Regions from separate parts of the Homo sapiens genome. Here region 1 is linked to region 2. Evidence: fine-mapped QTL for protein levels in blood plasma. Region 2 holds a variant in brackets. A gene starts in the other region. All regions are shown on their reverse strands.

Region 1 (5,384 bases), not on the chromosome of region 2:
AGATGTATGACATTAAATGTTTATGTATAAAGCAGGCTTCTTTAGTAATGGCCACAGAATGGTTTATAAATATAGTACCACATCTTCACTAATTTGCTCCTAGTAATGAAGCTCCTCCCACACAGTGCCTTGTATTGAACGAAGATGTTCCCTGCTCAGTTACACTGGGAGCCCCTAGAGGAGTTAGTCCTGCTTTGTAGTCCTACACCCTCCCTTTCATCTCTTACATGGAGAAGGTTCTCAATGGCTGCTGATTGCCTTATAATTACTTCCCATCTCTTTACCTTTCACAACCAGAATAAGAAATGCAGGGCAAATGTTCCTAAGTGATTTGCATCTCAATTCTGAAAGCTAGCTATTTCTTCAATTAGCTAAGACGTAGCATTATATTTATAATCCATTCTGTGGCTATTAGTAAAGAAGACTGTTTTACATATAAACATTTCATGTCATACTTCTTCCACTCAACCCTGGGGAGACAAGCACCATGTGTCCTAGAGATTCATCCTGGGTAAAAGCCTGGGTTTTTAGAGAATAACAGAGGACTGCTTTGCCACCTGCACTTTTTTACCAAGCTCCTGGCTCTCATGGCTTTAGCTCTAACATGTTGTATGGGTTTGGACACCTTGAAAAGTGCTTAGGAGGTCTTGGGGCCAGACCTGGATTCAAATCCAACCTCTTCCACATGTTACCTTTCTATCTCTAGGCAAGTTACTTAAACTGTGTGCATAGATCAGTTTCCTGATCTATATAAAGAAAATAACAGCATCTCCTCAAAGAGTTATTCTGAAGATGAAATGGGTTACTACAAGTAAAGCACTTAGAGCAGTAAGTGGAACAGTAAGCTCTCCATGAGCGTTAGTTCTTGCTGTGATTCTTTGGAGAAGCAGCCTAGGGAAGGAGAAGACCTTGTCCTGGCTCTACCATTTATTTGCTTTGTGCCTTTGGACATGGAAACACTAAGATTTCCATTTCTTCATGTAAAGTATTAAAATCTTGATAATGCATGGAGTGCCTATCTCACAGAGTGGCAGTGAGGTTCAAATAAGCTAATAGATGTGAAAATGCTTTGTAAACTATAAAAAAAAACTGTACAAATGTAGGGTAACAAATGCCATCTCTTTCTGTCTATACCTGTAAGCTTGCACTCATTTTGTATTATAGTTACTTATTTTTATCTGCCTCCTGCATTAGATTTGAGCTCCTCAAGATAGGAATCACATCTTGCTGTCTCCTATATCAACCTGTACATGAGTCTAGCTTGATGCCTGTACATGGCATATACTCAGTACAGGGAAACTGGAAGAATAGCAAACTCCTTGTGTGTTTTTTCGGGTGTGTGTTCCAGTAGCTTGCTCCCCTTTAGACTGTATGTGCCAGGACTATTCCACCCGACATCAGGTGTAGCTTCCCAGAGGGCTCACTGTGAACAGCATCTGCAGGCAGGCATCCAACACCAAGCTGAGCACTCATGTACAGACACTAAATGTGGGGACACCCTGTCCTGAGGCTCGGATCCCCAGTGCTCAGCCAGCAGCTGTTCCAATCCCCATGAGGTCTCTGAATGAGTCTCCTTACTACTGGAGAGACTACTAGTTTAGTTGCCCTCGATAGTCCAAACTAGGGAAATTGAGAAATTGAACCTTGGCATATTCAGTGAAGTCCAGACTAAGGAAGCTGAGAAACTGAACCTTGGCATGTTCACTGACCTCAAGGCCTTACTTCTTTTTCTTCCATTTCAAAATCTTCCCAAAATGGCAACTTTGGCTTTTGTGCCCCTGCTCCTAGCTCCCATCTTTCATGAAGTGGGTGTTCTTAGAGGATGCCATCTGCCTGATGGTGTCATGTATCTCTATATCCTGCAAGCTACCCACCAAATCCTGCTCACAGATTAAGCACTGGATACATACTTGCTGATTGGAATTTAAAGAAAACCAAAATAAGTAAACTCGACAGGAGATTAATTGCCTAGGAGTCGGTTGACTGCTTGACTGAAGCTGGATTTTTTTTGGGAACCGCTGGCTGCCTTCACATTTCCTGATGGAAGTGGGACAGGTCAACAGACAGCCCAGAGTGGCAGATAACTTTTGCCCACACGTCATTCATTTTTTGGAGCGTTGGCTTGAAATTGAGGGGTGTGTGTGTCTGGAACCGACGTGCCTTCCGTGCGCCTCCGGGGTCTTTGCACTTTCTTTCAATGGGCTGATTACAACACAGAGGATGTGGACAGTGGAGTTTTTCCTGTTTGATGTCACACTGCTACCCTTTAAAAGTCTGACGGCAAAAAGGAGGGAATCCAGTCTAGGATCCTCACACCAGCTACTTGCAAGGGAGAAGGAAAAGGCCAGTAAGGCCTGGGCCAGGAGAGTCCCGACAGGAGTGTCAGGTTTCAATCTCAGCACCAGCCACTCAGAGCAGGGCACGATGTTGGGGGCCCGCCTCAGGCTCTGGGTCTGTGCCTTGTGCAGCGTCTGCAGCATGAGCGTCCTCAGAGCCTATCCCAATGCCTCCCCACTGCTCGGCTCCAGCTGGGGTGGCCTGATCCACCTGTACACAGCCACAGCCAGGAACAGCTACCACCTGCAGATCCACAAGAATGGCCATGTGGATGGCGCACCCCATCAGACCATCTACAGTGAGTAGGGCTTCAGGCTGGGAAGAAGGGGAGCACCCTTGTTGTCCATCTACAGGAGGCTTGGGGAGGTTGGGGACTAGACTGGAGGGCTAATCCAACCCTCCTAGCTTTCTGCCCAGGAACCACTTATTGTCTTTGTGTGTGTGTGTGTTTGTGTGTGTGTGTGTGTGCGTGTGTATTTAAAACTTAGGGGAAGATTCTGTCACTCTCCTAATTAGCATTTGCTGGTTTTTCTCAATATGAATAATTTTTATTTCAACTAAAACCCTTCCCACAGTAGGAGCCATGTTCCCTTTGCCCCGTCAAAAGATTGAAAAAATGTACAGAAAGAAAGGCAAGGAGTCTAAGAGAAAAAGAAGCCAGGCAGATCAACAGACACTAAGTTTCAGCTCATGGACTTTGGACTGGGTTAACTAGGGAGGTTGTAAAGATTCCTGGGTCATACCCAGATTGTTATAGATAAATCTGGGGGCTCTTTCCAACTCTGGCCTTATAAAAATTCTTGGAAAAATGTATTAAAGACAGACTGTCCATGTATGTTGTCTTGGTGAGAATGGCCAAGTATACAACCCATCCACCCATTCATTTGTCCATGCATCCATCCATCCATCCATCCATCCATCCATCCATCCATCCATCCATCCATCCAACAGGTTTAATGGGTGTTTCAGACACCCAGGTACCCAGGTACCCAGTATGAGTTGGTGATTCTTCTCTGTGGAACTGAAAGGTGTCCAGTCAGTAGCAAGTCAAGCTAGTTAGAAACTTATTGGCAACATGAGACAACTGGAATGTTTTTAAAGATCAGGTTTGTGGAGAATTGGATCACAATCCACAATAATCAATCCATTAGCAATGATTCAAATGAGGGTCCCTTTGTGTGCACCTATATAAGGGGTAATGTGGTGAAAGCAGGGATAGATATTGAAAAAGACTGGATCTTCTATTTTAAGAAAACGTGAGAAAACACCTCAAAGCATACAGAAAAATGCAAACTGATCCAATATAGCTCAAATTAAAGGAAAGAAAAATTAGTTAGACAATCTCTAACTAAAGAAAACATAGGAATTATGATTTGCCCTTTATTGTTGTAATAAATAAATTAATTATTTTTGCTGTGACCTTGCTGTGTGTGAGGCATTTATTCTTCTAGGCTCCAAAGGTCCTTAAACCTGGTTGCAAGATATACAACATGCAAAATTAAGTTGCAAGATATATAACATGCGAAATTGACAGTTTAACCTCTTCAAGTACTAAATGCATATTGACAGGAGATAAAAGGAGAGAGGAAAGTTCTCTCCGAATACCAAACAGGTTCCAGAACTCCAGAGAATATAGTAAGACTCAGGAGTCAACATCTTGGAAACCAAGTTTGAGTCTCATGGCAAAAATTTCAATTAAATCTGGATACACTTGATGCACCCGAAGTGTTGTTCATTTTATTCAATGGATATTTAATAGGATCTACCATGTGCCTGGCATTCTACCAAGCGCTGTGGCTGAAAACTAAGACACAACCCTTCAAGGACCTCATGGTCTGTCGTCCTACCTTGTCAGCCAGCTCACTACCAGACTTTCAGGAAATGCAATTTTGCATGTCTCATGGAGGGGACACCCTTACTCTAATTCAAGACTATATGTGGGCCAGGTGTGGTGGCTCACGCCTGTAATCCCAGCACTCTGGGAGGCCGAGGCAGGCAGATCACGAGGTCAGGAGATTGAGACCATCCTGGCTAACACAGTGAAACCCCATCTCTACTAAAAATACAAAAAATTAGCCAGGCGTGGTGGCAGGCGCCTGTAGTCCCAGCTACTTGGGAGGCTGAGGCAGGAGAATGGCGTGAACCCGGGAGGCAGAGCTTGCAGTGAGCCGAGATTGCGCCACTGCACTCCAGCCTGGGTGACAGAGCGAGACTCCATCTCAAAAAAAAAAAAAAAAAAAAAAAAAAGACTATATGTGATTTAAAATGCAGAATAGTAGATTATGGTAAATTATTTTGATTCTCTTAGATGGAAAGGGCTGCATCCAACTAGAGAATGTTTATACAACTTGTCTCGAATCCTGGAATCCCGTTGCTGAAAGGAACTCCTTAAAGACGTTTCTTCCTGAACAAGAATTAGGGTAGAACAGAACAGGCCGGCTACGGTGGGGAGTGAGTGTGAAGAGTCAACCTCCTGGGCTGGCAGTCTGAACTTAGACCTTTTCCTTGAAAGCCCACCTCGTATCAGGCCCCAAGGGATCACTGAGTGCTAGTTAGAGTGAATTAAAATGACTGAGAAGCAGCAAAATAAATTGAACTGACTTCAGATTTTTAAAAATAGAAATGTGATTTTGTTTCCTTAGACATAGGCACTAGCTAAACATTGCATCTTTAAAGAGTTAAACATGAATGCGGGGAGGGGAACTTCGGGTCAGGGTAGTGGGAGGGAGATCTACTTTTCCTAGTCTATGTAGATAACTTTTTGTACTGTTCAATGAGTTGTCATGTGTATTATGGGAAAAAAAAAGTGCAGGAAAAAATTACACACTACAATTAAAAGTTACCCAAAAGAGGCCAGATGCGGTGGCTCACGCGTATAATCTCAGCACTTTGGGAGGCCGAGGTGGGAGGATCACTTGAAGTCAGGGGTTCGAGACCAGTCTGGCCAACATGGGGAAACCCTGTCTCTACTAAAAATACAAAAATTAGTGGGGTGTGGTGCCTGCCTGTAGTCACAGCTACTTGGGAGGCTGAGGCAGAAGAATCGC
Region 2 (5,384 bases):
GAAGAAGCCTGCCTTCATGAGGTCCCTGTTGAGCAAAGCAGGCCCCAGGCTGGACATCAATCCTCTCTAGTCACTCCCTCTCTTCCCCTGAAGGAACCAGATGATGAATCACCCACTGGAAAGGTCCACTTCTTTCCTTCCTAATAAACAAAATACAACTTTCAAACCCCATTGAAAAAGGAACCAGGCCTAGTTCCCTCTAACAATACCTGTTTACCTATTGATTTTGCCATGGCTCAGAAAATATGTATGGTGTCCTTAGGAGGACTAAAGTGGTTTTCATATGTAACTCACATCCCCAGGTTCCTTTAGGTGTTTTCTAGAGTAGAGGACCTTAGCCTGGGGAGTAAGGGAGGCAGAGAAGGCCTGAGCATCTCTGAAAGGCCGTCAAAATGTGCATGAACGTTCGTCAGGACAGGGTTTTTAGCTGGGGATTCAAAGGTTAAGAATCTGCTAGCTCTCCAGACTAACTGAGCTCAAAGTCTTGAATTTGTACACAGGGCCAGGCAATGTTCTATACATTCATTTAATCCTCCTAAGCAAGTTACGAATTGACACTGCTATTTCCACATCCCCGTCTTACCAACTCCACATTAAGCTACCAATAACAGTGGCATAACCAGGAATCCGAACCAGGCATGCTGGCTGTAGCATTCATGCACCTAACCACCGTACTGCTTAAATAAAACACAGATAAAGTGACTTACTTATCTACATTTTAGTTGTACCTAGTCTGAGTGAGAAGTTGGGAAGAAAAAGTGACTTCGACCAAGAAGAAATGCAGAATTACCTGGGCTGTTTGTTGATCAATCCACTAGGACATTTGGCAAATTTTCCCGTGCTTACTATCTTGTGTTTTGGAGATGTGTATGCATGTGTGTGTAGGTGCGTGTGTGTGTATATGTGTGTGTATAATTTGTGACCCAAATTTTAATAGGTGAAAAATCAGTTAGATTTCTATCCTCAATTATTTTATTATAATTTAGTTTCCTATTCTAAATAATTTGAAACATGGTAACTATTTTAGTAATTTTGGGGAAGACAATGTCTGTTCAAGGACTTTTTTGATTAGCATTTTAAAGTAAACATGTTTGTTCACTAAATAGGGAAACCCACAGTCTGGGGAACTGACTTTGTCTTAAATGATGGTCTTCACCAGAAACTGAAGTTCATGAGTTTATGAGTCATCTCTGGCTCATTCTTCAAGTTTGCATTAAAAGTCAGGAGAAAAGGCTTATAATCAGGCTGGGTGTTTTGCTGCTGTTTTTCTTGTTGTTTTGCATTAAAGATGCTCAAAATGAATTGAGAAATAAAATCAGCCGTGCATAAATAATGGGCTTAGCCTCCTGGTCAGTGTCATGTGCAGAGGCAGAAATGGTTCCAGTGGCTGACTTAGTTAGGGGAAGGAGTAGTATTTGGGCATTAAAGATTTACCAAATTGTATTTTTGCAATTCTATTTTTGGGGTTCTGCTGAGCAAAAAAAAAAAAAAAAAAAAAAAAAGCCCTGCAGCTCATGAACCTGGACTCTGAACATCCTCTCTTTAGTTTACTATAAAAAGAAAACTCTTTAATAAAAAACAGTGAACAGAACTGGGATGAAAGTTTAAGGTTTTCTTTAGTCAACAGCTTTCCTGTGGTTCCTGAATTTCTGGCTGAACAAGCACAAATTGGTGAATAATGGAGGCAACCAAAGTAAAATATAGGAAACCGAAGTAAAATATTAAAATATTGTCTTTACTGAAGGTCCTTCTTCAGGATAAAGAGTTAAGAAAATGATCACACTAAGCATTCCTTACTTAGGTAAACATTGACAGGAAGTGAGGTGAGAACTACCTTGTCAGAAAATGTGTGGGATGCTGGAAGATTCTTTAATGCAAGTCACAGACTGGCAGGTTCCCAGCCAAATGTGGACCTCACATGGGCTTTTTTGGCTTGCATGATGTGTTTTAAACTTTTGAATTTGTTGACAACTTTTAAAAATTGAGGGAGTGCATTCTCAAAGTTGATATTTTTCTCTTGCCTTCAAAAGTTAGACCTGTTGCCAGTCGGGCGCAGTGGCTCATGCCTGTAATCCCAGCACTTAGGGAGGCCCAGGTGGGTGGATCACCTAAGGTCCGGAGTTTGAGACCAGCCTGGCCAACATGGTGAAACCCCGTCTCTACTAAAAATACAAAAATTAGCTGGGCGTGGTGGTGCGCACCTGTATTCTCAGCTACTTGGGAGG[C/G]TGAGGCAGAAGAATTGTTTGAACCTGGTAGATGGAGAGTGCAGTGAGCCAAGATCACACCAGTGTACTCCAGCATGGGCATCAGAGTGAGACTCCATCCCAAAAAAAAAAAAAAAAAGTTAGATCTGTCTATGGTGGGCCCACTTTCTGCTTAGCACAGCTGGCTACAGCTGAGTAACAAAGCCCCCTTGGACGGGCCAGACCCTTGGCTTGTTTGCCTGTTTCCACCATTCCGTAGAACCTCCCACCTGGTCTATCTCACTCATGCAAAGCCCTAGCTTTACCTCATACACATTTGGAATTTTCATATGTGCCATGGCTATGGACCAGTCATTTCTTCACTGCAGTTCTTATTTTATTTACTTTAAAAAAAAATGTTTTAACTTGAAAACTAAAGGTCTCTTTAGTTCTATTCAGCTGTAAAATTCTATAAGAGAAGTACTTTCCTACCCTCATGAAAAATCTCATTGGAAAGGGTGGAAAAAGAAACTAACATTATTTTCCTCATGATTTCTGGGCCTAGAAATTTCTCTAGAATACTATGATTTGCATGTCTGAATCTTTTGTTCTTCTATTTCATCCTCTTTTATTCTTTTCCATAAAAAAAAAAAATCAGTCTATTCCCTGCTCCATCCCTCACACATCTTTGTCCTTTCTTCCTGGTGACATCTTCGGTTTCCAGACTGACATTGCCAGTCACGATGTCCAGGACCCAACTGATTAAAAAATTCTTATTTTCTTATATGAGCTATATCACTAAATTAATATTCTAACCTGATCTGTAAGAACTTAGCCCTGTTGGACTACAGATATGTCTACAGATGCCACCAGGGCACCTATAAGACAGGAAGACACTGTCTAGACACTCGCCTTCTGTTCAGAGCAGGCCATGAACTGGTGACCACCTGGGCCTTGTCCAGTTTACAGGCATGTATCATTCAGCCCCAGTTTGTAGTTTCAAAAATTGGAATCTATTACTAAGATTAAAAACATAAATGAGACATTTCACAAACAATCCAGATTCCTAACTACTGTTTAAAATGGGAGATGTGTCTGACATGGGCCACATCCCCAGATGGCAAGAATTGGCCAAGCAGCTTCCCCTTGAGATGGGTCTGAGCTCTCCAGTCTGCCACAGGCCCCACCTGGCTCGTTTGCCCATATATACCATTTTTCTAGCTCCAGAAAGCACTGGAATCTGATCTGCAAGTTCCCGTTTGGGTTTGAAATGCCACCGCACTTTAACAATGAGATGCAAATCTAATTCGCATTCAGTACCCACATCCTGGTGGTAAACGTGCATTCTAGTATTATTCCCATTTTACAGATGATAAAATGAGATTTAGAGAAACGAAATCTGTTGCCCAAGGTACATGCCTAGCAAGTAGACCAGCCAAGGCATATCTGACCCCAAAGCCCATTTCCTTTACCAAATGTGATGCTTTGTCCTTCTTCTCCCTGCCTTCCTCCCTTTTTGTTACTTTTTTTCCTTCCTTCCTTCTTTCCTTCCTTCCTTCCTCTTTCCTTCCTTCCCTCCCTCCCTCTCTCTCCCTCTCCTCTCCTCTCTCTCTTTCTTTCTTTCTTCTTTCTTTCTTTCATAATAGTGTTTGTAGAAACTGAATTGACTCAAAAGAACACTTGTATTTGGATTCTTGGCTTCTTCTCTAAAATTGGAACATTTGCCAGTTTGTCAATACTAAGCCCTCATTCTCTGACCTCCCTCCACTTCTTAGCAGTGGGCTGGAGCTGAACAACTGCTGTCCCCAGAGCAGGGGCGCAGCTTCCCAGGCTGCTGAAACTCCCATCATTTTCACACCTGACTTTCTTCAATCCATCATGTTCCTGACAGCACCCACTGCCACCAAGGCTGACTTCTCCATTAGGAATAGTGTCAGGACCCAGGACCACAAAAATGTTTTTATTTCAATTTATTTTAAAATCAGAAGGAAAAAGAAATATAATAATGATAATGAATACGTCATAATGAATCCAACCTGTATTTTTCTTTACGCCAATGCAGTCATTACATATAATTTCTTATTTGTTTTAACTGGAGGAAGTTTCAACGGATGGAGTATGTCAATTACTCTTCACATCAAGTTTAAGAACACAGGCCCTAGAGCCAGACTGCCTGGGTTGGAAACCAGGCTCTGCATCCCCAACCAAAGTGACCTTGGACAAGTTACTTAATCTCCTCATCTGTAAAATGAGGATAAAGTCATTGTCTCCTTTTAGACTTGTTCAAGGATTAGATCAGTTCATATACATGTAAAGCGCTTAGAAGAGTAAATGCTACATACATGTTTAACCTTATTAGTTACATTTGTATGGAATGAATGATTGTGTTAGCACCTCCCCCACAATTTATATGTTGAAGTCCCAACCCTCAATATGGTGGTATTTAAAGATGTGGCTGTTAGGAGTTAATTAGGGTTAGATGAAATTGTTAGGGTGAGGCCCTCATGACATTAGTGCCTTGGTAAGAAAAGACATCATGTTCCCTTTTGCTCGCTTGCTCTCTCTCTCCCTGCCACATAGCAAGAAGACAGTCATCTGCCAGCCAGGAAGTTATCCCTCTCCCAACCATGCTGGTACCTGGTCTCACATTTCCAGTTTCCAGAGCGATGATAAAAATAAATGCCTATTGTTTAAGCCACCCAATGGGTAGTGTCTTGTTATGGCAACCCTAGCTAAGACACATGTCCAAACACAAAAAACTTTTCTTTAGCTGTTAATATTTGATGACAACTGCCTAACATCTTTCTAACTCAGGGCTTTTCAACCTTGGCACTATAATATTATGGATCAGATTTTCGCTATTGTTGTGGGAGGCTGTCCTATGCATTGTAGAATGTTTATCAGCCTCCCCGACCCCTATCTACTAGATGACAGTAGTATTTCTCAGTGTGACACCAAAAAGGTCTCCAAACATTGACACACATCTTTTGCTGGGATTGGGGGTAGAATTGTCCTTGTGGAGAAGCACTGAGCTAATACATGTCAGTCCTGAAATATGCGGCCTAAGCAATCGACAGAGCTCAATGCCTCTAGCATCTACTTACCTTTCACTCGCCAGGAGTCCAAAGAGGAAATTCATTCTGTACATTAGATTTTGTTTTGTGTTCCCGCCTATTAGCAACAAGCATCTTCACTGATATA

Direction of the effects. Positions count from the first base shown, and alleles are read on the strand shown. Strength reflects both the effect of a copy and how common the allele is.
For the plasma level of the protein whose gene starts at base 2,295 in region 1, G is the high allele of the variant in region 2 and C is the other (weak association).

Evidence for each region. PIP is the posterior inclusion probability: the model's chance that the variant is causal. The UK Biobank Pharma Proteomics Project read protein levels with antibody pairs (Olink). The fine-mapping took linkage between variants from a reference panel, not from the people measured, so its PIPs are less certain.
Region 1: FGF23 starts here. The variant in region 2 is fine-mapped to the plasma level of the FGF23 protein (UK Biobank, PIP 0.97).

The regions. Positions count from the first base shown.
Region 1 is chr12:4,376,623-4,382,006 of GRCh38, reverse strand. FGF23 (fibroblast growth factor 23) reads left to right here and starts at 2,295. Exons shown (of 3, transcript NM_020638.3): 1 at 2,295-2,635. The coding sequence starts at 2,425.
Region 2 is chr20:54,118,258-54,123,641 of GRCh38, reverse strand. No RefSeq gene overlaps it. Among named protein-coding and RNA genes, the nearest start is that of BCAS1, 50 kb to the right of the region's middle. RefSeq lists an enhancer at 1-88. The variant C/G (reference allele first, on the strand shown) is at 2,226.